5 separate regions of the Homo sapiens genome follow, and regions 1, 2, 4 and 5 are each linked to region 3. Evidence: fine-mapped QTL for protein levels in blood plasma. A gene starts in region 3. Each other region holds a variant in brackets. All regions are shown on one strand. Distances are from middle to middle.

Region 1 (5,097 bases), 57 kb before region 3:
CACGGAGTCCCCATAGCCTCAGCCTCCCCCCACGGAGTCCCCATAGCCTCAGCCTCCCCCCACGGAGTCCCCATAGCCTCAGCCTCCCCCCACGGAGTCCCCATAGCCTCAGCCTCCCCCCACGGAGTCCCCATAGCCTCAGCCTCCCCCCACGGAGTCCCCATAGCCTCAGCCTCCCCCCACGGAGTCCCCATAGCCTCAGCCTCCCCCCACGGAGTCCCCATAGCCTCAGCCTCCCCCCACGGAGTCCCCATAGCCTCAGCCTCCCCCCACGGAGTCCCCATAGCCTCAGCCTCCCCCCACGGAGTCCCCATAGCCTCAGCCTCCCCCCACGGAGTCCCCATAGCCTCAGCCACCCCTCACGGAGTCCCCATAGACGCAGCCTCCCCCCACGGAGTCCCCATAGCCTCAGCCTCCCCCCACGGAGTCCCCATAGCCTCAGCCTCCCCCCACGGAGTCCCCATAGCCTCAGCCTCCCCCCACGGAGTCCCCATAGCCTCAGCGTCCCCCCACGGAGTCCCCATAGCCTCAGCCTCCCCGCACGGAGTCCCCATAGCCTCAGCCTCCCCCAACGGAGTCCCCATAGCCTCAGCCTCCCCCAACGGAGTCCCCATAGACTCAGCCTCCCGGCACGGAGTCCCCATAGCCTCAGCCTCCCCCCACGGAGTCCCCGTAGCCTCAGCCTCCCCCCACGGAGTCCCCGTAGCCTCAGCCTCCCCCCACGGAGTCCCCGTAGCCTCAGCCTCCCCCCACGGAGTCCCCGTAGCCTCAGCCTCCCCCAACGGAGTCCCCGTAGCCTCAGCCTCCCCGCACGGAGTCCCCGTAGCCTCAGCCTCCCCCCACGGAGTCCCCGTAGCCTCAGCCTCCCCCCACGGAGTCCCCGTAGCCTCAGCCTCCCCCCACGGAGTCCCCGTAGCCTCAGCCTCCCCGCACGGAGTCCCCATAGCCTCAGCCTCCCCCAACGGAGTCCCCATAGCCTCAGCCTCCCCCAACGGAGTCCCCATAGCCTCAGCCTCCCCCAACGGAGTCCCCATAGACTCAGCCTCCCGGCACGGAGTCCCCATAGACTCAGCCTCCCGGCACGGAGTCCCCATAGACTCAGCCTCTCGGCACGGAGTCCCCATAGACTCAGCCTCCCCCCACGGAGTCCCCATAGCCTCAGCCTCCCCCCACGGAGTCCCCATAGCCTCAGCCTCCCCCCACGGAGTCCCCGTAGCCTCAGCCTCCCCCCACGGAGTCCCCGTAGCCTCAGCCTCCCCCCACGGAGTCCCCGTAGCCTCAGCCTCCCGGCACGGAGTCCCCGTAGCCTCAGCCTCCCGGCACAGAGTCCCCATAGACTCAGCCTCCCGGCACGGAGTCCCCATAGACTCAGCCTCCCGGCACGGAGTCCCCATAGCCTCAGCCTCCCGGCACGGAGTCCCCATAGCCTCAGCCACCCCGCACGGAGTCCCCATAGACTCAGCCTCCCCGCACGGAGTCCCCATAGACTCAGCCACCCCTCACGGAGTCCCCGTAGACTCAGCCTCCCCGCACGGAGTCCCCGTAGCCTCAGCCTCCCGGCACGGAGTCCCCGTAGCCTCAGCCTCCCCCCACGGAGTCCCCGTAGCCTCAGCCTCCCCCCACGGAGTCCCCGTAGCCTCAGCCTCCCCCCACGGAGTCCCCGTAGCCTCAGCCTCCCCCCACGGAGTCCCCGTAGCCTCAGCCTCCCCCCACGGAGTCCCCGTAGCCTCAGCCTCCCCCCACGGAGTCCCCGTAGCCTCAGCCTCCCCCCACGGAGTCCCCGTAGCCTCAGCCTCCCCCCACGGAGTCCCCGTAGCCTCAGCCTCCCCCCACGGAGTCCCCGTAGCCTCAGCCTCCCCCCACGGAGTCCCCGTAGCCTCAGCCTCCCCCCACGGAGTCCCCGTAGCCTCAGCCTCCCCCCACGGAGTCCCCGTAGCCTCAGCCTCCCCCCACGGAGTCCCCGTAGCCTCAGCCTCCCCCCACGGAGTCCCCGTAGCCTCAGCCTCCCCCCACGGAGTCCCCGTAGCCTCAGCCTCCCCCCACGGAGTCCCCGTAGCCTCAGCCTCCCCCCACGGAGTCCCCGTAGCCTCAGCCTCCCCCCACGGAGTCCCCGTAGCCTCAGCCACCCCCCACGGAGTCCCCGTAGCCTCACAGCCCTGCACGGAGTCACCATAGCCTCAGCCTGCCCCACGGAGTCCCCATAGCCTCAGCCTCCCGGCACGGAGTCCCCATAGCCTCAGCCTCCCCCCACGGAGTCCCCATAGACTCAGCCTCCCCCGACGGAGTCCCCATAGCCTCAGCCTCCCAGCACGGAGTCCCCGTAGCCTCAGCCTCCCCCCACGGAGTCCCCGTAGCCTCAGCCTCCCCCCACGGAGTCCCCGTAGCCTCAGCCTCCCCCCACGGAGTCCCCGTAGCCTCAGCCACCCCCCACGGAGTCCCCGTAGCCTCACAGCCCTGCACGGAGTCACCGTAGCCTCAGCCTGCCCCACGGAGTCCCCATAGCCTCAGCCTCCCGGCACGGAGTCCCCATAGCCTCAGCCTCCCCCCACGGAGTCCCCATAGACTCAGCCTCCCCCGATGGAGTCCCCATAGCCTCAGCCTCCCAGCACGGAGTCCCCATAACCTCAGCCTCCCCCCACGGAGTCCCCATAGCCTCAGCCTCCCGCCACGGAGTCCCCATAGCCTCAGCCTCCCGGCACGGAGTCCCCATAGCCTCAGCCTCCCCCCACGGAGTCCCCATAGCCTCAGCCTCCCCCCACAGAGTTCCCATAGCCTCAGCCACCCCGCACGGAGCCCCTCACAGAGCTCCCACCCCTCCCCAGCTCTTGAGTCCCCAGCCCTCCCTGTCTGAAAGCCCAGCCCCAGCCCGCGCCCCGCTCTCTGAGCATCCACCCCTCCCTGTCTGAGCACCCAAATCCGCTCTCTGAACCCCCC[T/C]AACCCCCGACTGAGAGTCCTCATGGAACTGGCAGGGGTCCCCCCAACCCCTGACTGAGAGTCCTCATGGAACTGGCAGGGGTCCCCCCAACCCCCGACTGAGAGTCCTCATGGAACTGGCAGGGGTCCGGCCCTTCCTGAGCCCAAGTCCCTGTGCTCCTCCTCGGGGTGTTGCCCCCTGGCCTCTGCAGTCCTGGTTCCCACTTCCCAGCATCCCTTGGGCTCCAGGATGCCCGCGGCAGCCCTGGGGGAGCCTCTGGGTCCCTACTGAGGGGTCGGCGGGCACCTGCATGGGAGTTGCCTGAGGGCAGTCTGTGGGGTGGCCCGGCCAGCTCTCCCACTAGGGTGGGTCCCTCACTCCCAGCCCCACCCAGTGTGGCACCCCCCCAGGCTGGTGTGTGGAGTCCCAGCTCAGGTCCGGCCCAGGCCTCATGGCGGGGATGGGGCTGTGGCAGCCGGGTCGGACCTCCCCTTGCATGAGGTCCACTGGGCTGGGAGAGAGACGCCTCAGTGAGGTGGGGAGCTGGCAGCTGGACAGCCTGGGGGTGCAGCTCTACACCAGGCCCTCGGGCCCACAGCGGGGTGTGCGGGGGACGGGGCAGCCCATGCCACTGGCTGCTCCTCTGAGACCCACACATCCTCCATCCCAGCCCTGCCAGCCTCAGCCCCCAGACTCTCAACCAGCTCCAGCCCTGGTCTTTGCACAGACCAGTCCTGTAGTCTGCTAGGGCATGTGGACATGGCATGTGTGTGTGTGTGGACACAGGGCACGTGTGTGAGAGCATGTGGACATGGCATGTGTGTGAGAGTGTGGACACGGCGTGTGAGTGTGGACACGGCGTGTGTGAGTGTGGACATGGCATATGTGAGCTTCCGGACACGGCACGTGTGTGAGAGCCTGTGGACACGGGGGCATAGAGCGTGTGAACACATGGCCCATGTGTGAGAGCAGCCACGTATGTGTATGGATGAGGCAGGTGAGCACATGGGTGGGTGTGGGCAGGGAAGTGGCAGGAATGGGCTGTGAGGGCAGGCAGCAGTGAGCAAAGGGCAGGGGCAGGCTGGGCATAGGTTGTGGGGGGCTCGGGGAGGGCCCCTGCTAGGAGGCCCACCCAGGAGCTCAGGGGCCACAGGGACCTGGAACTGCGGTGAGCAGCTTCCAGCAGGTGCTCCAGCCTCCTGGGGCTATAGGGAGAGAGGGCTTTGTCCAAGCACACACCCCAGCCCAGACCTGCCCAGGCTGCAGCGGCTGTGCTGACCCCTACCCGGCTCCGACCCTCACCCCTCCCTCCCTGCCCTCCAGCTGCCTGGCCCGCCAAGGAGAGGATGAAGCCAGCCAATCCCTGAGGCTTGCGGCCACACCCTTGGCCCATAGGGTATAAATAGACCTGCTTGGGAGCCCACACCCAGCAACTCACACCTGCCTCAGACCAGAGCTCTGTGCGGGTGACGGCGCACGCATTCCTTGTGTCCCCGCCTGTCTTGGACAGAGCAGAAGCCACACCTGCCAGACCAGTGCCACCGGGACAGCTGCTGGTGGCCGGCCCCGGGGAGGGATACCTGCTGGGTGAAGCACAGGCCGGGCCGGGCCCGGAGAAGAGGAAGCAGACACTGCCACGGCAGGGCAGCCCAGGGCCTTGGAGCCCAACCGTGGCCGGCGAGGAGGACCACGCCCAGGCCCGCTGACCCCCGGCCACCAGGTAAGGCCAGCTCAGCCCGTGTTCACCCCTTACCTGCACAGGCTCAGGGTGGGGCACCATCGTGGAGGGGTGGGGCCTCGTGCCAAGGAACCGGTTCTGTGGGGTACACAGGCCGCAGAGCACAGTCCCCAGGTCCCGGTGCCTGGGGCACTCACGGCCTCACAGTGACGGCGTGTGACTCAGGTGGTCACAGTGACCTGTGTCATCCCGCCAGCCTGTCTGGGACTCACTGGCAAGTCAGGGGTGGGGCGGGGCAGTGCCAGGAGTCACTTCTGGGGCAGCCTCCTGGGCCCCACGGGGACGCACGGCCAGGCCCTTGAGTCTCACTGTCACCCTTGCCCACTTCCCTCCAGGTGGGACCCCTGTGGCTCCCTGCAGCGGATCCTGGGTGCAGGGGAGGGGCGGGAGGTGGAGCAGGGTCCCAGGTCAGCTGAGATGCCCACCTGAGCCATGCCCAGGGGCA
Region 2 (5,097 bases), 14 kb before region 3:
TCACTGATCAGGTCAGGGCCCTCCCCCAGCTCAGCCTTCCCTGCAAGCTCCTGTCCACTTCCAGCCTCTGTCCAGCCCCACCCCTTGCTGAACAGGGAGAAGGGAGGACAATAGAGCGGAGCCCCCTGACCGGACTCTGGCCCTGCCCTACAGGTCTGACATCACCTCACAACCTGTGGGTCCCAGGACTTGTTCCCAGTTTTGAGGCTGAGGGGGCTGAGGCCCAGAGAAGTGAGAGCCGAGGTCCAGTGCCGTCAGGCGGCGGCCTCTAGACCCCGAGTTCCTACTGCGGCCCACCGCTGCGGACTCCCAGGACAGACGCAGGTGCCCTTGTCCAGCCTCCTCCTCACTCCAGACACACTCCACACGTCTGGGTGCACACCTCCAAATGGCCCCTGACTCCCAAGAGTGCCACAGCCCATCCAGGTCCCCCGAACTCAGCCCTACTCACCATCAGGAGGCGTCGGAGGCACTGGAGTGAAGTGGGTCCCGGGTTTATCTGGAAGAAAACAAATCCCCAAGTTAGGCTCCTCTGAGCAGGCTCCTCCCTGTCCCATCCCTTTGCCCAGCCTGGAAAGGGGCACCCCTGCCCACCCCCCCCCCCCCACCGCTAGCCCCAGGGATCCAGGCTGCTGAAGGGTCCAGCCCTGACCCCATGGGCTGGCTGAGGTCTGAGACAGAGGCCCCTGCTTTTCTCTGCCCCTCCAGCCAAATAGTCATGGCCTGACCCCTGTCAGATGGGGCCCCAGCCACAGGGGTGCAGGCAGGACCCCCTTCCCTGGAAGAGTCCACCGCAGGTCCTGCCCTACCCCCAACTGCCGGCTCTCAGTGTAGCCGGCTGCCCCTCCCTCCCCAGCTCCCGCAGAAAGTGTTTCTGCAGCTTTGGGTGAGGGCCAGGCCCACTGAGAGCCCAAGGACGGCCTCCAGGGACCGAGGGGTCCGCAGAGTGACCCATCCCATCCCCGGGAAGCTGCCGGGAGCCCCGCGGACCCGCCGCGGCCTCCAGCCTCTATGTGCAGGGGCCTCGGGGTTGGGGCTTGGCCAGTGCGACGCCCCGCCCGCGGCCACCTACAGTTGTTGAGGAACAGCAGCACCGCGAAGCCGAGCGTGGCGGTGGCCAGCAGGATCAGGCAGGCGTTGCAGGGCACCATGAAGCCTCGCACCAGCAGGGAGGCGCCAGGCGGCTGCCGGGTGTCCCGCGCCAGCGGCAGCGGAGGCATGGCCCGGGGCTCCGGCTCTGCGCCCCACTCTCAGAGCGTGGGGGCTCCTCACGGGGTGCCCTTGGGCCTCTTCAGGGCTGCTCGCCCCATCCTGGGACCCCTGGGGCGGCGGACAGCAGCTGTGCCCTCAGAGTTCACCCAGTCACAGCCCTGGGGGTGCCAGGTCCCGGCTCCAGTCCTCCAGGCTCATCGTGGGAGGAGGGCAGAATTCTCCCGGAGTAGAAATCCCAAATGTGGGCTCCGAGGTAGGCGGAGGAGGGACTGGGAGCCCGCAGCCACCCCTGCTGCCCACAGCCTCCCCGGGCTGGCCGCCAGCGCTCGGTCTTCCCGGAGCCCCCGGAGCCGCGCAGGCCGGAGAGGCGGTGCGCGCGGCAGGTGCGCGGGGGCCGGGCGCCGAGGGTCTGCTGTCCCCGTCCCCGGCAGAGGCGGAAGCGGCGATAGGAGCGGGCAGGCAGGAGGGGCGGCCGCGTCGGGAGCGAGAAGAAAGCGCCGCCTGCGGAGGCCGCGCCGGGTCCCGGGCTCCCTCCAGCTCCCCTCGTCCCCGCGGGGCTGGGGAGGTGAGTGAGGGGCGAAGACGCCGCGGAGGGAGGGCGGGAGCAGAGACAAAGGAAGCCGCCTCCAGGGACCCCGGCGTCCGCGGGGAGTTCCAGAGGATCGGGCGGATGCGGACGGGAGAGCGCCGCACAAAAGGGAACGCCGGGCAGGCGGGGCCGGGGGTGCTCGGCTGGGGCTGGGGCTGGGGCTGGGCCCGGGGCCGGGAGCGCTGGGGCTGGGGCTGGGCCGGGACTGGGGCTGGGGTGGCTGAGGCTGGGGCCGAGGGTGGGCCTGAAGGTGTTGGGACTGGGGGTGGGACTGGGGCTGGGCCTGGGGGCGCTGAGGCTGAAGCTGGGGCCGGGGGTGGGACTGGGGGCGCTGGGGCTGGGCCGGGGGTGGGACTGAGGCTGCGGGCGTTCAACTGGGATTGAGTCGAGGGCAGCGGTGGGGCTGGGCCGGGGGAGCAGGGGTCGCGCCGGGCAGCGTCGCGTGCTGGAGCGGAGGCGGGTGCGGCCGGGGCAGGTCGCGGGAGGAGGAAGCGCCTGGGGAGCAGGAGCTGGGCCGGGCGGGTCCGCGCCCCGCACCCGCGGGGGTGAATCGGAGTCGCCGCAGGGGGCTCGGGGGGCCGCGTGCGACCGCGTGTGCGCGTCGTCGTGCGTGTGCCCGCGAGTGTCTGCGCCCGCGGCCCCGCCCTGGCGGGGCGTAGGTGGGGGAGGGCCCCAGGTGCGGCGCGAGCTGGAGGGTGGAGTGAGGTGAGCGGCCCAGAAATCGCCTCGCCCACTTTCCCCTGGGGATTGACAGTGGCTCCTCCAGTCGCCGGCGCCCCCGACTCCCGCGCGGGGCGGGGTCATGCAAATGAGCCCCATGCAAATTGCGGCGGGGACTCCCTGCGGGTCCGTGGGGCTGGAACGCCCCCAAGAGGCCGTTCCGGGAACGTCCGGGCCCTGACGTCACTGCGGCCCGGGGCGGGGAATGGGGGTCTGGGCCCATCTGGGACTCCTGACGCGTAGTCCGGCGTCCCCACACCCGCCCCCGTAGGTCGCCCCTCTCCCTGGCCGCTGCCCAGCCGGGGGATCCGGGGGTAAGGGAGGGGCCCGTCCGGTCCGGTGTGTGCACCATCCCCTAGAGTCCATGCCAGGCCCGACCACCCTGGAGGCCAGAATCTCTCGGCGACC[G/T]CACCTCAGCGCCCCCGCACACCCCTGGCCACCCGCAGCCTTTGGAAGGGACCCCTGCGCACCCATTACCCTGCCCTCTCCTCTGTCCCTGCAATGACCGACCCCATTCCCCAAGCCCCAGCTCCAGGAAAGCAAGGACCCGGCGCCAGGGCGCTTCTGCTCCGCCAGTCCCCTCCAGCACCGCGGACCAAGCCATCTGCCACACTCGGTCTCACCCACTCTGCAGACGACAGCTGCCGGCAGCCACCAGTGCCACCGCGTGGTCACACCCAGGCCTCACCTCAGTCCACCCCAGAGGACCCACTGCCCACACCTGCTGCCTTCCTGGAGTCCCCCAGCCGGGTGTCTGGGCCCCTCAACCCCATGGCCTCCATCTGGACTCTCCCCAACGCCTCCTTCCTTCCAGGTGCCCTGTCTCACCTCCTGGTCAGGCTCCTCCAAGGGCCCCAGCCAAATCCCACCAACCCCACCTTAGCTGGGAAGGTCCTGTCTTGCCAGCTCCCTCTCTTGGGACTCCTTTCCACCCCACAGCCAGGGACCAGCACCATGCCCCATCACCCAGACAGGAGGCCTCCACATCTCTACGGCCCTGGAACCTGGTGTTCCAATGAAACCCTGCAGGAAAATCCAAACTCAGCCAAGGGTTCTCACCCACCCCAAGCCACGTCCCATCCAGAGCAGCTGTCAAAGGAAGCACTTGGAGACCCACCCCTGCTGGCCTCACTCTCTCCTCAGGGGAGCTCCTACCCCAACCACCCCACCCTGCTGGACCTTGGCACTGTCCACACCAGGCTGACAGTGTTCCGGCGGTGCTGACTGTGGGTGCCCCGGGCAGGGTCTGACTTTTTATCTCCCCAGCGCAGGGTGTGACCCAGGGATGAGAAAACCCAGAACAGGACTTGCTGTGTGCAGAGGCAGGTGGTTCACATGCATTCCCCATTTCTCACCTCCCAGCTCTGAGTCCCAGGGGCAGTGCCAGGGTCAAACCCAGGCCGTGCTACCAGGTCACGCGCCAGCCCGCCTGCTGCCACCACCTTCAGCCATGGGATCTCTGGGCGGGCTCTGCAGGAGGAGGACAGGTACCACAATGTGGGAGGGGTGGGGGAGCCCCAGGTACGGGCTGGCAGAGGGGGCCTCAAACACTGCCTGGGAAGTTTGCCCCCACACAGAGAGACCCTGGGATCTGCCAGCAAAGGGGGCCCAACAAGCTGAAAGTCACGTGGGGGGCCTGGCTGCCCCAGGCCGACACTGGAATGAGGCTTAGGGCCCCTTGGGCTGGGCCAGGGGAAGGGGAACCAGGCAGGCAGCCTGGCCCCACCCAGCCCCAGTCAGTGTCTGAGCCCCCCACAGAGGCCCAGATGCCTTCAGAAAGACAAAGGGCCATTGAGGCCCCAGGCCCAGCCAGGGAGGGAGCTCAGGCGACATGAGCTATTTTGGGATCTTCAGACAAAATCATTCAGCCCTGACCAGCCCACGCAGGCTCATGTGCAGGAAAGAGTACTAGCCCCCTGGTCCCTGATCTCACACTCACAGCACCATGCACCGCACACACATACACACACATGCTGATCTCACACTCAGCACCATGCACTGCACACACACAGACATGCTGATACACTCACAGCACCATGCACTGCACACACACATGCTGATCTCACACTCAGCACCATGCACTGCACACACACAATCTCACACAGCACCATGCACTGCACACACACACATCTCACACAGCACCATGCACCGCACACACACACACACAATCACACTCACAGCACCATGCACTGCACACACACACATGCTGATACACTCACAGCACCATGCACTGCACACACACATGCTGATCTCACACTCAGCACCATGCACTGCACACACACACACATGCTGATCTCACACAGCACCATGCACTGCACACACACACACGCTGATCTCACAGCACCATGCACTGCACACACACACATGCTGATCTCACACAGCACCATGCACTGCACACACACACACGCTGATCTCACAGCACCATGCACTGCACACACACATGCTGATCTCACAGCACCATGCACTGCACACACACACACACACACATGCTGATCTCACAGCACCATGCGCTGCACACACACACACACACATGCTGATCTCACACAGCACCATGCACTGCACACACACACACTGAT
Region 3 (5,097 bases):
CACAGCCCATGCGGGAACGCTCAGAGATGCGTCACCTGTGAACACATCCCCTCCCCCAGGTCTAACCAACTTCAGCCACCCCAGCTCCAATAACGTCCCTATCAGCTAAGGCCGAATTTGGGAAGGGGGCCCACCTGGCTTGGGGTGCCTGCCTTCCACACTTCTCCCCACCTGCCCAGTGCTCAGGGCCCACCTCCCAGCAAGCTTGGGCAGTGGAGGAGGGGGATGGGGCGTTGGGGTAAGGGGCCAGCTTGGCCCTGTGGCTGGGCTGAGACGCCCCTTCCTCGGGCTTCTACAGTCTGTGCACTCAGGGCAGCCTGTGAACCACGAAATCAAGTTTGGGCAGTGCAGGGTGCCCCACCCTCCACCTTCTCAGCTCCTGGGGCCCTGAGGGCAGCTGCTCTGACGGTGGCCTGTGGTAAAGGCTACAGCCGACCTGGCGGCCCTCACGGGGACAGGGACCCACGCACTCACGCACTCCCCTGAGAACAAAGCCGGGAGAAGCAGCCCCTTCCTCAGATCTGGGGGGCTGGGGCTGCCGGATGGGGGGAGAGACAATGGTTGGCCTGTCCACTGCGCAGCCCCTGCTGGGAGCCTCAGGACTGCGGCATCCGCAGGGACCCCCTCCAGTTGCGCAGGCAGAGCCTCTTCCACGCCCCCCAACAGTAGGCTCCAGGAGGCAGATGACCCAGGCAGGGGGAGGGCCTGGTGGCTTTCATCGCCTTCCCCCACCCCAGCCACACCCAGGAGCAGCGGGGAGGAAGTCGGGAAAATCCTGCAGGGGCCTGGCAAAGTGCCCTGGCCGCTGTGGAGGAGACTGGGCCGGCGGGGGAGCCCAGCTGTAGCCCGCACCGGCCAGTCTGAAAGAAGCTGCCACCTTCTCCACCTCCGTGGAGGGAAATGAGTGGATTTCTGGTCCCAGGAGATGGTTTTGGGGGTACACGGGCGCCGGCTCTGGGTCCCCCGAGCCCCTACTAGGAGAAGATGGTGGGGGTCCCAGCGTACCTACCCCGGGGGCTCCCAGAAGCACCTGAAGGAGAAACCAGGGAAACTTCCCCTCCCCGGGGTGGGGAGCCCCGGTTCCCGCAGGAGCGCGATGGGGCACCGGCCCTGCCCCCAAGCACACGAGGCCCGGTGACGGCCCCGCCCACCTCTCTGCTCCTGCACGCCCCCCCCCCGCACCACTGCGGCACCCCCCACCTGGCTCCCGGGGTTGGGAGCTCAGGCTGTGCGCCCCTTTTTCTCTCCTGACCAACCCCTCTCGCCCCGGGAAAGGCCTCTGGGGAGGGGAACAAGCGGATCCCAGGCCCAGCCCCCGCTCCCCGCCCGGGCAAAGGCCCCCCCTCCCCAGGCCCCTCTCCTTCTCGGCCGGTAGGGAGGGCGCGCGGCAGCCGCAGTCCGTGGGCGAGGTGCACTTGTCTCCGCGAGGAGGGAGGCGGCGGCGGGCGGAGGACGGCGGCGGCGCAGCAACTTTCCCCGGCGCCCGCGAGTTTCCCGGGACCCGGCGACCCCCCCTCCCGGGGCTTGGCGGTCGCCAAGGGAGCCGGAGCGGGGGCTGCGGAGCGACCGGGGCTGGTTCCCACGGCCTGGGGCGGGGGTCCCGGCGGGGCGGCAGGCGTCGCGAGGGGAGGCCGGGGTCCGGGTGGGCGCACCTTGCAGGAGTACGTGTGCTGCACCGGGTCCACGTTGAGGATCTCCTCCACCGTCCCGGTGAGCACCACGTTCGCCTCCTCCTCGCGCCGCTCCAGCGCGCGCTCCGGGCATGTCCCGCCGGCTCCGGGCAGGACGCACGCGGCCACCACAAGGAGCGGCAGCAGCGGCCGCAGCGGGCCCGGGTGGGACCGGCCGGCCATGGCGCAGGCGAGAGGCGGCGGAGGAGCGCGCGGGCCGCGCCGGGGACGGGACTGGACAGGACGGGACGCAGCTCCGGAGGCGGCGGAGCGCGGGCGGGCGGGCGGGGGGGGGCGGGGCCAGGGCGGCGCCCCTCCCCCTCTCTCCTCCCCGCCCCCCTACCCCCTCCCCGCGCCCTCCTCCTCCCCCTCCTCCTTCCTTCCCCCTCCCGCCCCCTCCCTCCTCCCTCCCCCGGCCCGCCCGGAGGCCGGCGACCCGCGCCGCCGCGAACAAAGCCCCGGGACGCAGCGCCCGGCGCGGCCGTGGGGCGGGAAAGGGGCGGCCCGGGAGGGGGCGGGGAGAGGAGAGTGGGGGGCGGGTCTGGATCCCGCAGGCGCCCCTCCCCCGCCGCGGCCCCCCGGAAGTGCGGCTGCACCCGAGTTAATGCCTAATCTGGAGGAGACGTGACGGGACTGCCGAGGGGCTCCGGGCGGCGCGGAGCCGGGCGGCAGGGCTCGAAGGCCGCCGGGAGGGGCCCCAGACCCGGCCCCGATCCCGCTCCGCAGGCCGCGCCCCTCCCCCGCGGGGCCGGACACCGAGGCTCGGCCGGGCCGGACCCCCCGGGAGCTGCGGCGCGGAGGCGGGTCCCGGTGCCGGGGCGGGCGCTGATTGGCCAGCACGGGGCGCGGCCCCGCCCCTCCCGGCCCCGCCCCCCCAGGCCCCGCCGCGGGGAGGTTCGCGCCCCCTTCCGTCCCGCGGCTGCAAGCGCGGGTCCCGCCACGCCCCTTCCCAGCTCTGGGCCGGGCGCCTCTGCAGCTTGGCCTGGCTGGGTGCAGGGGGAAACTGAGGGCTGGAGGACCCAAGTGGGAGCCTGGCCTAGCTGAAGATTGAAAGGAGGGAGCGGAGGCCCCCTTTGTCCCTTCAGAACTGTGTCTAGGCTGGGCGTGGTGACTCACGCCTGTCATCCCAGCACTCTGGGAGGCGGAGGCAGCAAGATCTCTTGACACCGGGTGTTCGAGACTAGCCTGGGCAAAATAGCAAGACCCCATCTCTCAAAAAAATTAAAAATTAGCTGGATGGGCCGGGCGCAGTGGCTCACGCCTGTAATCCCAGCACTTTGGGAGGCTGAGGCAGGTGGATCACGGGAGGTCAGGAGTTCGAGACCAGCCTGGCCAACATGGTGAAACCCCGTCTCTACTAAAAATACAAAAATTGGCCGGTGTGGTGGCAGGCGCCTGTAGTCCTAGCTACTTGGGAGGCTGAGGCAGGAGAATCGCTTGAACCCAGGAGGCGGAGGTTGCAGTGAGCTGAGATGGTGCTGAGAGGTGACAGCGTGCTGGCAGTCCTCACAGCCCTCTCTCGGTCTTCACGCCTCCTCTGCCTGGGCTCCCACTTTGGTGGCACTTGAGGAGCCCTTCAGCCCACCGCTGCACTGTGGGAGCCCCTTTCTGGGCTGGCCAAGGCGGGAGCCGGCTCCCTCAGCTTGCAGGGAGGTGTGGAGGGAGAGGCATGAGCGGGAACCGGGGCTGCGCGCGGCTCTTGCGGGCCAGCTGGAGTTCCGAGTGGGCGTGGGCTTGGTGGGCCCCGCACTTGGAGCAGCCGGCCGGCCCTGCCGGCCCGGAGCAATGAGGGGCTTAGCACCCGGGCCAGCGGCTGCGGAGGGTGTAGTGGGTCCCCCAGCAGTGCCAGCCCACTGGCGCTGCACTCGATTACTCGCCAGGCCTTAGCTGCCTTCCGGCGGGGCAGAGCTGGGGACCTGCAGCCCACCATGCCTGAGCCTCCCACCCCCTCCGTGGGCTCCTGTGCGGCCCAAGCCTCCCCGATGAGCGCTGCCCCCTGCTCCACCGTGCCTAGTCCCATGACCACCCAAGGGCTGAGGAGTGCGGGTGCACAGCGCAGGACTGGCAGGCAGCTCCACTTGCAGCCCCAGTGCGGGATCCACTGGGTGAAGCCAGCTGGGCTCCTGAGTGGTGGAGACGTGGAGAACCTTTATGTCTAGCTCAGGGATTGTAAATACACCAATCAGCACCCTGTGTCTAGCTCAGAGTCTGTGAATGCACCAATAGACAGACACTCTGTATCTAGCTACTCTGGTGGGGCCTTGGAGAACCTTTATGTCTAGCTCAGGGATTGTAAATACACCAATCGGCACTCTGTATCTAGCTCAAGGTTTGTAAATACACCAATCAGCACCCTGTGTCTAGCTCAGGGTTTGTGAATGCGCCAGTGGACACTCTGTATCTAGCTACTCTGGTGAGACCTTGGAGAACATTTATGTCTAGCTCAGGGATTGTAAATACACCAATCGGCACTCTGTATCTAGCTCAAGGTTTGTAAATACACCAATCAGCGCCCTGTGTCTAGCTCAGGGTTTGTGAATGTGCCAGTGGACTCTGTATCTAGCTACTCTGGTGGGGCCTTGGAGAACCTTTGTGTGGATACTCTGTATCTAACTAATCTGGTGGGGACGTGGAGAACCTTTGTGTCTAGCTCAGGGATTGTAAATGCACCAATCAGCGCCCTGTCAAAACAGACCACTAGGCTCTACCCATCAGCAGGATGTGGGTGGGGCCAGATAAGAGAATAAAAGCAGGCTGCCGGTGCTAGCAGTGGCAACCCGGTCAGGTCCCCTTCCACACAGTGGAGGCTTTGTTCTTTCGCTCTTTGCAATAAATCTTGCTACTGCTCACTTTTTGGGTTCACACTGCTTTTATGAGCTGTAACACTCACCGCCAAGGTCTGCAGCTTCACTCCTGAAACCAGCGAGACCACGAGCCCACCGGGAGGAACAAAAAATCCAGACGCGCTGCCTTAAGAGCTGTAACACTCGCCGCCAAGGTCTGCAGCTTCACTCCTGAGCCAGCGAGACCACGAACCCACCAGAAGGAAGAAACTCCGAACATATCCGAACATCAGAAGGAACGAACTGAAGACGCGCCGACTTAAGAGCTGTAACACTCACCGCGAGGGTCCGTGGCTTCATTCTTGAAGTCAGTGAGACCAAGAACCCACCAATTCTGGACACAGTGCAACTGCACTCCAGCCTGGGTGACAGAGCGAGACTGTTTCAAAAAAAAAAAATTAGTCGACGGGCCGGGCGTGGTGGCTCAGGCCTGTAATCCCAGCACTTTGGGAGGCCGAGGTGGGCGGATCACTTGAGGTCAGTAGTTCGAGACCAGCCTGGCCAACATGGTGAAACTCTGTCTCTACTATAAATACAGACAGGGCACGGTAACTCACGCTTGTGATCCCAGCACTTTGGGCAGC
Region 4 (5,097 bases), 84 kb before region 3:
ACAGAACCTCAGCGAGCGGACTCCAGTTATATTCCGTGCTCTTGTCGGCACGCATTTCACTTCTAGGTATGCTAGAAAATTCTACAACACACTTATTACTATTTTATTTATTTATCTATCTATTTATTTATTTATTTGTTTGTTTTTGAGACAGAGTCTCGCTCTGTAGCCCAGGCTGGAGTGCAGTGGTGCTATCTCGGCTCACCGCAAGCTCCACCTTCCCAGGTTCATGCTATTCTCCTGCCTCAGCCTCCCGAGTAGCTGGGACTACAGGCGCCCGCCCAGCTAATTTTTTTGTGTTTTAAGTAGAGACAGGGTTTCACCATGTTAGCCAGGATGGTCTCACTCTCCTGACCTCGTGATCCACCCACCTCGGCCTCCCAAAGTGCTAGGATTACAGGTGTGAGCCACCATGCGTGGTCCACACTTATTATTTTTACTTTAGTTAATAGTCTAATATTTAAGGGTATATTGTTTTTTAAATCCAATGCCTTTACTTTTTATTTATTTTTTTTTGAGATGGGGTCTTACTCTGTCATCCAGGCTAGGGTGTGGTGGCGCGATCTCGGCTCACTGCAGCCTCAACCTCCTGGACTCAAGCGATCCTCCCACCTCCCTCCCAAGTAGCTGGGATCACAGGCATGTGCCATCACGCCTGGCTGATTTCTGTAAGGGGTTTCGGTGTATTGCCCAGGCCGGTCTTAAAACTCCTGCCCTCAAGCGATCCTCCAGCCTCAGCCTTCCAAAGTGCTGGGATTACAGGTGTGAGCCACTGCTCCTGGCCTTTACTTCTTAAATTGAAAATTTCTATAAACTTTTACGGTAGTTGGCCAGACATACTGAACATATTTGTTGAGTGTTGCAGTTGAAAACCATCAGACTCCAGTTTATTCTGGAGCCAGAGGGCCTGGCCTGGGCCTAACCCTGCCGCCTACTCACAGTGTGGTCTTATGCAAGTCTTTTCCTCATATTTAAAGTGGGGCGATAAGGGGCATTGTTGAAATTAGTGAAATCAGTTTGTGTGTATAAATCCCTTCGCGTGGTGTCTGGCATGTGGCAAGTGCTCTGGAAGTGTTGATTGCTGCTGTTGTTGGACAGTGAACAGGTTTACATCCCTTGGAGACCCAGGATCTGTAGCACAAAAAGACTTATCCTTTCAGCCCATGTTCTCCAAGTTCCCTGCTGCCAAAGCTTTTTTTTTTTCCTTTGAGACAGGGCCTCGCTCTGTTGCCCAGGCTGGAGTGCAGGTGCGTTCCCGGCTCGACCAGCTTGAATGCGTCTGCACTTCGGCTTCGAACTCCTGGGCTCAAGCAGTCCTCTTGCATCAGCCTCCCAGGTAGCTGATATTCTAGGTGTGAGCCACCATGTCCAGACCATGCAGGCTTGTTACTGCCCAGAGTTGAGCACCTGGGAAGCAACACCAGCGCCCACCGTCTAGAAACTAAAATCGCCTTGGTTTCTGGACACAGAAAGCCGTATGATGGGGTTCTACTTCAGTGGGAAAGAGTAAACTTCTAACAGAGTGACCCTGCCATAGCACAACTATAACCATGGACAGAGTATGAAAAACAGCTCCCTGAGGGCTCTGGAGAGTGGCAGATTTTGGAGGGAAGTTTTGACTTGGAGGAAGCAACCAGCACAGTTTCCTGTTTTTGCATCTTTGCCCTGAGGGCAGCCACAGTCCCCACATGATAGTGTGGGGTGACTAACGCACTGATAGAAAGTCCACTGTCTGGGCCGGGTGCAGTGGCTCACGCCTGTGATCCCAGCACTTTGGGAGGCAGAGGCAGGTGGATCACGAGGTCAGGAGTTTGAGACCAGCCTGGCCAACATGCTGAAACCCCGTCTCTACTAAAAATACAAAAAATTAGCCAGGTGTGGTGGCAGGTGCCTGTAATCCCAGCTACTCGTGAGGCCGAGGCAGGAGAATCGCGTGAGCCTGGGAGGCAGAGGCTTCAGCGAGCTGAGATTGCGCCACTGCACTCCAGCCTGGGTGACAGAGCGAGACTCTGTCTCAGAAAAAAAAAAGTAAAAATTCTACTATCTGGCAGGGCAGCTCACTCCTGTAATCCCAGGATTTTGGGAGGCTGAGACGGAGAATTGCTTGAGGCCAGGCATTTGAGACCAGCCTGGACAACACAGTCTCTACAAAAGAAAAGGACGTTACCTGGGTGTAATGGTGTGCACCTGAGGTCCCAACTATTCAGGAGGCCGGGGTGAGAGGATCGCTGCCACTGCATTTCTGCCTGGGCGACAGAGGGAGAATGTGTCTCCAGAAAACAAACAAGCAAAAAAGAAAGTACGCTATCTTCCTTGTTCCAGGAGCAGGCAGGGGAAGGAGCTAGGCACCCATAGCTCCTCGAAAAAGAGAGTAGAAGCCCCAGAAAGAGCCAGAGGGGAGGAGTCCTGTGTATAGATGCCGCTCGTTTCTGGCAGACCCCTGACCCCTGCGTGCACCCTGTGCCATGCAGTGACCTGAGCCACCGCTCACCGCAGGTGTGACAGCGTTTGCAGTTTGAATCTAATGAAATTAATTGCCTGCTAAGTAGAAACATTGATTCTCTTCAGAGGAATATCACAGAATTCCAGTGTCTTCACAATGTAA[C/T]GTTTGCAATGTACAGGGTACAGTTCAAAATCACTCAACATATGAAGAGCCAGGAAAATGTGAGCCATTCTCGAAGGGAAAGACAACAGATATCAATTGTGTTATGACCTAGCTGTTGGAATAGTCAAAAAAGCACTTTGGAGCAGGTTTAGTGTCTGTGCTCAGTGAAGAAAAGGGAAATGCACGCATAATGAACAAAGTGCCGGAAATCTCAGCGAGGAAACATGTTTAAATGAGCCAAATGGGAATTTTAGGTCAAACAAACACAAGATCTGGCTGGGCGTGGTGGCTCACGCCTGTAATCCCAGCACTTTGGGAGGCTGAGGTAGGTGGATCACCTGCGGTCAGGAGTTCAAGACAAGCCTGACCAACATGGTGAAACCCCGTCTCTACTAAAAATACAAACAGCAACAACAAAAATTTAGCAGGGCTTGGTGGTGGTCGCCTGTAATCCCAGCTACTCGGGAGGCTGAGGCAAAGAATCACTTGAGCCCAGGAGGCAGAGGCTGCAGTGAGCCCAGATCATGCCACTGCACTCCAGCCTGGGGCTGGGGGACAAGAGTGAAACTCTTGTCTCAAAAAAAAACAAGATCTGAAATTTTATTTTATTTATTTATTTTTGAGACAGTTCTACTCTGTCACCCAGGCTGGAGTTCAGTGGCACGATCTCGTCTCACTGCAACTTCTGCCTCCCAGGTTCAAGTGATTCTCCTGCCTCAGCCTCCTGAGTAGCTGGGACTACAGGTGCCCACCACTACGCCTGGCAATTTTTTTTTTTTTTTTTTTTTTTTTTTTTTTTTTTAGTAGAGACAGGGTTTCGCTATGTTGGCCAGGCTTGTCTTGAACTGACCTCAGGTGATCCACCTACCTCAGCCTCTCAAGGTGCTGGGATTACAGGCGTGAGCCACTGTGCTTGGCCAAGATCTGAAATTTTAAAATTCACTGAATGAACATAACAGAAGGGAAATAACAGAGAAAATAGGCAGAGTCCTCAAAGACAGAGGAATAGAAATCATCCAAGCTGGAAAAAAAAAAAAGGGTGGAAGTGATTGGAGGAAAATAAAACAAAACCATGAACAGAGCCTCTGGGACCTGTAGGTGATATCTAAGCCTCAGGGACCTTAGGTGATATCAACATGTCTAACACATGGGTAATTACAGAGGTCCAGGAGAGGAGAGGCACAGTGGACAGAAGTACTTGAAGAAACAGTAACCAGAAACTTTCAAATTTGGTGAAAGACATAAATGTTTAGTTTTAAGAATCCCAAACAGGATAAATGAGAATAAAACCACACCTGGACCCATCACTTCAAAAGTTTGTTTTTTTTTTTTTTTTTTTTTTTTTGAGACAGAGTTTTGCTGTTGTCGCCCAGGCTGGAGTGCAGTGGTGCGATCTCGGCTCACTGCAACCTCTACCTCCCAGTTCAAGCGATTCTCCTGCCTCAGCCTCCCATGTAGCTGGGACTATATGCCCGTGCCACCATGCCCGATTAATTTTTGTATTTTTAGTAGATACGGGGTTTCTCCATGTTGGCCAGGCTAGTCTCGAACTCCTGACCTCAGGGGATCTGCCTGCCTCAGCTTCCTAAAGTGCTGGGATTACAGGTGTAAGCCACCACACCCAGCCCTAAAACTATTAAAAACTAAAGATTAACTTTAAAAATCTTGAAAGCAGCCAGAGAAAAACAACAGATCACACACAGCACAGCACTGTGAAGACTGAGCTGATAAACCATGAGCCAATAGACCGTGAGCCGACAGACTGTGAGCTGATTGATAGACCATGAGCCGACGGACCCTGAGCCAATAGACTGAGCTGATTGATAGATGTGAGCCAATGGACCCTGAGCCGATAGACCATGAGCTGACAGACCCTGAGCTGATAGACCATGAGCTGATAGACTGAGTCTGTGAGATTTAAAAAAAAATTTTTTTTTATACAGTCTTGCTCTGTTACCAAGGCTGGAGTGCAGTGGTACAGTCTCAGCTTACTGCAACCTCTGCCTCCTGGGTTCAAGCGATTCTTGTGTCTCAGCCTCCCAAGTAGCTGGGACTACAAGCGTGTGCTACCATGCTGAGCTAATTTTTGTATTTTTAGTAGAGATGGGGTTTTGCTATGTTGGCCAGGGTGGCATCAAACTCCTGGCCTCAAGTGACCCACCCACTTGGCCTCCCAAAGTGCTGGGATTACAGGCGTGAGCTGCCACGCCCGACCAAGTTTGTGAGTAATTATGGAGACCAGAAGAAAGTGGAACTGCTGAAAGAAAAAAAAAGCATAGAATTCTGTATTCTCTAAGAATAAACATTACATGAAAATATTTTCAGAAAAAGGAAAACTGATAAAATTTGTCACCATCAAATTGTGCTACCGGAAATGCTGAAGATAGTATATACTACAGTGAAACTCAGATCTTTAAGAATGAATGATGAACATCAAAATTAGTAAATATCTGGGGAAAAATTAAAACATCTCTTGGGTTTATAATGTATGC
Region 5 (5,097 bases), 18 kb after region 3:
GAGGTTGGGAGGGGAGGTCACAGCCAGCACCTCACAGGCCTTTTGGGGACACTGGCTGTGGTCATGGAGTGCGGCCACAGTGGCCCAATGTGAGGAGACCCCCCAACAAGGCTGAGGCCCCCCCAGGTCCAGCCTAGAAGACACCCCGGTTTTCCCCACAGTCTCCCCACTGGCGTGTGAATGTCCTCATCAGTCACCCCCCTTAGCTAACAGGGGGCTGTGCAGATGCCCCGGGGCCACCCGCCATTTGGAGCTTGACCCACTCAGGGCCAGGAGGTCGGCTGGATTTCAGTGGCTCCCAAGAAGCACCCGTTAGATGGGGGGGAGGGGTGGGGAAGTCGCTGAGCCTCTGCCTCTGTGGAAGAGAGGAAGGGATCAGCGAGGAGGGAGCAGGGGTGAGGAGGGAAGGGTCACTCTCCCTGGGTCAGGGCCCCAGCCCACCTCCACTATTCCAGTCTTGAGTGCCGCACCACAAACCACCCCAAAACAGCACGCTCAGCAACCACCCTACTGTGTGCGGGCAGCCTTGGAACGGGGCGCGCTGGGACCTGCGCCGGAAGCTGCTCAGGAGTCTGGAATCCAATGCTGATTCCTCCACGGGGCCTCTCCTTGAGGCCAGGGCGTGCTCCCTCCCAGCACGGCAGCTGGGTTCCAAGAGCGACTGTCCCAGGACAGCGAGGTACGCATGGCGTCTTCCAAGTCAGCCTCAGAAGTCATGTCCTGCCAAACACCCCATTCTTCCCAGCTGAGACTGTCACAGAGTCTCATGTAGAAGGCATTTCAAGATATGGGGATGGGAGATACTATCACGGCCGTCTCTGAAAAACGCAACCTGCCCCCAACCCAGGTGTCGGCACCATCCTGGGCTGCAGCCCAGGATCCACCCCCACACTCAGAGCAAGGGAACCCCAAGGCCCTCAGGAACCCTGAGGCCCCTACCACAAATCGAGGCCAGATTCGAGAGGCAGGGAGGGGACCATCAGAGGCCAAGGGCACAGACCCAGAGAGACAGACACACAGATGGGAGCTGTCCTGTGGCAAAGAAGGTGGGAGGAACACAGTCCCCGGAGATCCTGGAGTGGGCTCCCTGGCAGGGGGCAGGGAGCAGGGGGGTCTCTTCCTCTCCAGAAGAGCAGAGGCAAGTGCTGGTGGCCCCTCCTGCCTCTGCTCAGCAAGGACCCCAGCTGCTGCCCAGGGGCAGGAACCCTGGCAGATGGGCGTGGGTGCTCACTATGAGTTGGACGCCGTCAGTGGCTTTAAAAGTAGAATCTCCTGGCCAGGCACGGTGGCTCACACCTGTAATCCCAGCACTTTGGGAGGCTGAGGTGCGTGGATCACCTGAGGTGGGGAGTTTGAGACCAGCCTGACCAACATGGAGAAACTACATCTCTACTAAAAATACAAAAATTAGCCAGGTGTGGCGGCACACGCCTGTAATCCCAGCTACTCCAGAGGCTGAGGCAGGAGAATCGCTTGAATACAGGAAGCAGAGGTTGTGGTGAGCCCAGATCGTGCCACTGCACTCCAGCCTGAGCGACAAGAGTGAAACTCCGTCTCAAAAAAGAAAAAAAAAAAGTAGAATCTCCTATTAAGACCAGCCTGGCCAACACAGTGAAACCCCATCTCTACTAAAAATACAAAACACTAGCCGGGCGTGGTGGTACATGCTTGTAATCCCAGCTACTTGGGAGGCTGAGGCAGGAGAATCGCTTGAACCCGGGAGGCAAAGGTTGTGGTGCCACTGCACTCCAGCCTGGGCAACAGAGCGAGACGCTGCCTCAAAAAAAAAAAAAAAAAAAAGTTAGCTCCCTTTTACAGATGAGAAAACAGGTACAAGGAGGGGAAGTGAGCCCATCTAAAAACCAGTGAGGGAATGATCAGTCCCAGCCACGCTTGGCAGGGAGGAGACTCACGCCTGTAGTCCCAGCACGTTGGGAGGCCGAGGCAGGAGCATCGTCTCGGGCCAGGAGTTCGAGACCAGCCTGGGCAACATAGGGAGATCCCCATCTCTACAAAAAAAAAATAAATAAAAACGATCCTCAGGCTCCTCCTTCCATCCCGAACTCCCTGCCTGTCTAGGGACTGGGGGAGGCCCAGAGCCCCCCCAAATTTCTTCCCAAGCCGGGGCCCAGGGGCTGGGGAGATTCAGGCCGGCAGCTCCCCTGGGATGACCCCCAGCAGGAGGCGGCGGCGACTGCGGCCACTGGGGGCGCTCGCGGGCTTTCCCGCCCGGGCCCAGCGCTCAGGCCGGGGAGGGACGCGGGACGGGGACACCATCCACACCACCTCCTGGGCTACGGGGCCGGTCCGAGCCTCTCCAGCGCCGAGGCGCGCGCAGAGAGGTC[G/C]GGGCAGGAGAGCCGGGGCTTAAGTGCTCGCGGGGCCACCTCCGAGACGCCCGCCCAGCCCCCGCGGCTTTCCCCAGTCGGCGAGGGGCGCGGACAGCCTCTCGGCGGAGAGGGCGCCACCCCCGCTCCGGCCTCGCAGCCCCCCGCGCCCCTGTGCAAGCGGCGGGGTGTGGGGGGCGCCTCAGGGGCACCGCGGAGGGCCGGGGTCAGCGCCGCGAAGAGGGCGCCTTCCCGCGTGGGCCGCAGGACTTTGCTTGGGGCCAGATTAGACGTGGGGTCCGAGGGGAGGGGAAGCTTCCGCACAGAAACCCTGGGTCCAGGTGCCCGGGCAGGGGCGAACCTGCCAATCAGCCGACTCCCTGGCTCAGAAAAGCTCCCCAAAAAGTTCCCCGACTCCCTCCCCGACCAGAAGCTCCCGGTTCTCGCTGGCCCAGCTCCCCCTCCCCACCTCCCTCGTCCCTGCGCCCCCTTCGCACCCTGGGAATGCCACGCCCTCCCTTGAGGCTTCCCCCCTGAGGACCCCCCACCCCGCAGAAGCCTTTGGGACCACCCGGCGTCAAGAAGGCTTTTGTCCACCCAGGCCACCCACCTAATTCGGTTCTCTTACGTGACTGCTGAGTCTGCCATCTGCCTCCTGCCCGGATTGAAAGCCCGGGAGGGTCTCCACACCCGGGCCCAGGCCAGGCTCTCCAGGGGGCTCAGGAAGCCTCCGCTGCACGGACGCGTGAGGCCGCCGGGGACCCCGAGTGCGGAAAGGACCAACGTGCCCCGCAGCGGCATTCGAAATAAAAACAGCAAACACGAAAATAACCACAGCCCTGTTTTACGCAACCTGCCCCTTTGCAGTTATATTAACAGTGGCCCCTCATTTTTCTGTGAGCCCCACTTTGCTGCTGCTGAGTTCGCCAGCGGGTCACCTGGAAGCACGTGGCGACACGGGCCACATGACGTCATCCCAGCAGGCTTGCGTCATCGCCCCGGGTGCCTGGTGACGTCACCAGCCCGCTCGCGTCACGCGCACGTTCTGCTCCTCGTGGTCCGGCCCGGCCCGCGCCATCACCGGCCCTGCTCTGCGGGGCCACCCGTGCGCCCCTTCGCCGTCCGCTGACTCCGCCCTCCCGCCTGCCGACCCGGCCGCCGACCTTCCCCCGGCTCTGTCGCTCCCAAGGCTTTCTGCAGCCCTCCGTGCTCCAGGCCGCACACCTGAGGGTGGGACCCCCGGAGGCCGAGCCGGTGTCGGATCAAACTCGGAGACCGAGCAGGGCCCAAACCGGGACCGGAGTGGGGACGGGCGGAGGAAGCCAAGAGGCTCGAGACCGAGGCTCGCCCACCCCTCGGCGCCGCCGGACCCTGCGCCACTGGGGGAATTTCCTTCCCGACTTCCCGCGCGGCCACAGCCCCAGCTCCGTCCAGCCCCGGCTCCCGGCCCCCTGGGCGGGAGAGTGAGCCCCGAGACTCCGCCCAGCCCCGGGGGTCCCGGGCCCCGTTCGCCCCCAGCGGCCCCTCCCGGCGCGTTGCTCGGCCCCGGCTGCATCGGGGAGCGCGGGATCACCCGGCCCTGTCCCCAGCGGTGTCGGAGGGGGGCGCGGGCGGGGGCCCCGCATGCCATTGTCGCCCGCGGAGGCCGCGCCCGGAGCCGAGGCGTGACTGACAGCGAGCGGGGGAGGAGCGCGGCCGTCGATTGGCTGGGGCGAGTGTGGGAAAGAATGCGGAGCCGGGTTCACACACCCCGCGGCGGCGAGGCCTTAAATAGGGAAACGGCCTGAGGCGCGCGCGGGCCTGGAGCCGGGATCCGCCCTAGGGGCTCGGATCGCCGCGCGCTCGCCGCTCGCCCGCCAGCCCGCCCGTGGTCCGTGGCGGCGCGCTCCACCCGGCACGGGGAGGCGCGGGGCGCACCATGGCCGCAGACACGCCGGGGAAACCGAGCGCCTCGCCGATGGCAGGAGCGCCGGCCAGCGCCAGCCGGACCCCAGACAAGCCCCGGAGCGCGGCCGAGCACCGCAAGGTGGGGTCCCGGCCGGGCGTGAGGGGGGCGACCGGGGGGCGGGAGGGACGCGGGACTCAGCCGGTGCCCGACCCGCAGTCCTCCAAGCCGGTCATGGAGAAGCGGCGCCGAGCGCGTATTAACGAGAGCCTCGCTCAGCTCAAAACCCTCATCCTGGACGCCCTCAGAAAAGAGGTAAGTCGGGGGCGAAGGCCCGAGACCCGGAGTCTGGGTCGCAGCTGACCTGGACCTCCCGCCTATCCCCGCCCCCAGAGCTCCCGCCACTCGAAGCTGGAGAAGGCGGACATCCTGGAGATGACCGTGAGACACCTGCGGAGCCTGCGTCGCGTGCAGGTGACGGGTGAGGCGCGGGCGGCGGCGGCTTGGAGGCGGGGGGAGGGCGCGGGACCCCCGGGACCCGGCACCGACCTCTCCTCCTGTGTCGCTCCCGCAGCCGCGCTCAGCGCCGACCCCGCCGTTCTGGGCAAGTACCGCGCCGGCTTCCACGAGTGTCTGGCGGAGGTGAACCGCTTCCTGGCCGGCTGCGAGGGCGTCCCGGCCGACGTGCGCTCCCGCCTGCTGGGCCACCTGGCAGCCTGCCTGCGCCAGCTGGGACCCTCCCGCCGCCCGGCCTCGCTGTCCCCGGCTGCCCCCGCAGAGGCCCCAGCGCCCGAGGTCTACGCGGGCCGCCCGCTGCTGCCATCGCTCGGCGGCCCCTTCCCTCTGCTCGCGCCGCCGCTGCTGCCGGGTCTGACCCGGGCGCTGCCC

Which allele goes with the higher level. Positions count from the first base shown, and alleles are read on the strand shown. Strength reflects both the effect of a copy and how common the allele is.
For the plasma level of the protein whose gene starts at base 1,906 in region 3, allele T in region 1 goes with a lower level than allele C (weak association).
With allele T in place of G in region 2, the plasma level of the protein whose gene starts at base 1,906 in region 3 is lower (strong association).
For the plasma level of the protein whose gene starts at base 1,906 in region 3, T is the low allele of the variant in region 4 and C is the other (weak association).
As copies of C replace G in region 5, the plasma level of the protein whose gene starts at base 1,906 in region 3 goes down (weak association).

Evidence for each region. PIP is the posterior inclusion probability: the model's chance that the variant is causal. Protein levels are from antibody-based Olink assays in UK Biobank. Linkage for the fine-mapping came from a reference panel and not from the study's own genotypes, which makes the PIPs less certain.
Region 1: its variant is fine-mapped to the plasma level of the AGRN protein (UK Biobank, PIP above 0.99).
Region 2: its variant is fine-mapped to the plasma level of the AGRN protein (UK Biobank, PIP 0.98).
Region 4: its variant is fine-mapped to the plasma level of the AGRN protein (UK Biobank, PIP above 0.99).
Region 5: its variant is fine-mapped to the plasma level of the AGRN protein (UK Biobank, PIP 0.92).

The regions. Positions count from the first base shown.
Region 1 is chr1:1,073,553-1,078,649 of GRCh38, reverse strand. It overlaps RNF223 (ring finger protein 223), which reads left to right and starts at 4,344. Exons shown (of 2, transcript NM_001205252.2): 1 at 4,344-4,634. RefSeq lists an enhancer at 4,152-4,651. The variant T/C (reference allele first, on the strand shown) is at 2,935.
Region 2 is chr1:1,030,679-1,035,775 of GRCh38, reverse strand. It overlaps AGRN (agrin), which reads right to left. Exons shown (of 36, transcript NM_198576.4): 3 at 452-499. Among named protein-coding and RNA genes, the nearest start is that of AGRN, 13 kb to the right of the region's middle. RefSeq lists silencers at 1,654-1,803, 2,219-2,528, 2,448-2,568, 2,549-2,688, 2,749-2,928 and enhancers at 2,442-3,311, 5,052-5,097. The variant G/T (reference allele first, on the strand shown) is at 2,930.
Region 3 is chr1:1,016,929-1,022,025 of GRCh38, reverse strand. It overlaps AGRN (agrin), which reads right to left and starts at 1,906. Exons shown (of 36, transcript NM_198576.4): 1 at 1,653-1,906. The coding sequence starts at 1,853. RefSeq lists an enhancer at 1-634 and a silencer at 2,143-2,592.
Region 4 is chr1:1,100,925-1,106,021 of GRCh38, reverse strand. All of the region lies in intron 1 of C1orf159 (chromosome 1 open reading frame 159), which reads left to right. Among named protein-coding and RNA genes, the nearest start is that of C1orf159, 13 kb to the left of the region's middle. The variant C/T (reference allele first, on the strand shown) is at 2,606.
Region 5 is chr1:999,119-1,004,215 of GRCh38, reverse strand. It overlaps HES4 (hes family bHLH transcription factor 4), which reads left to right and starts at 4,119. Exons shown (of 4, transcript NM_021170.4): 1 at 4,119-4,350; 2 at 4,429-4,524; 3 at 4,603-4,690; 4 at 4,784-5,097. The coding sequence starts at 4,243. RefSeq lists an enhancer at 1,937-2,076 and silencers at 2,127-2,476, 3,554-3,603, 3,704-4,083, 4,154-4,293, 4,844-5,097. The variant G/C (reference allele first, on the strand shown) is at 2,346.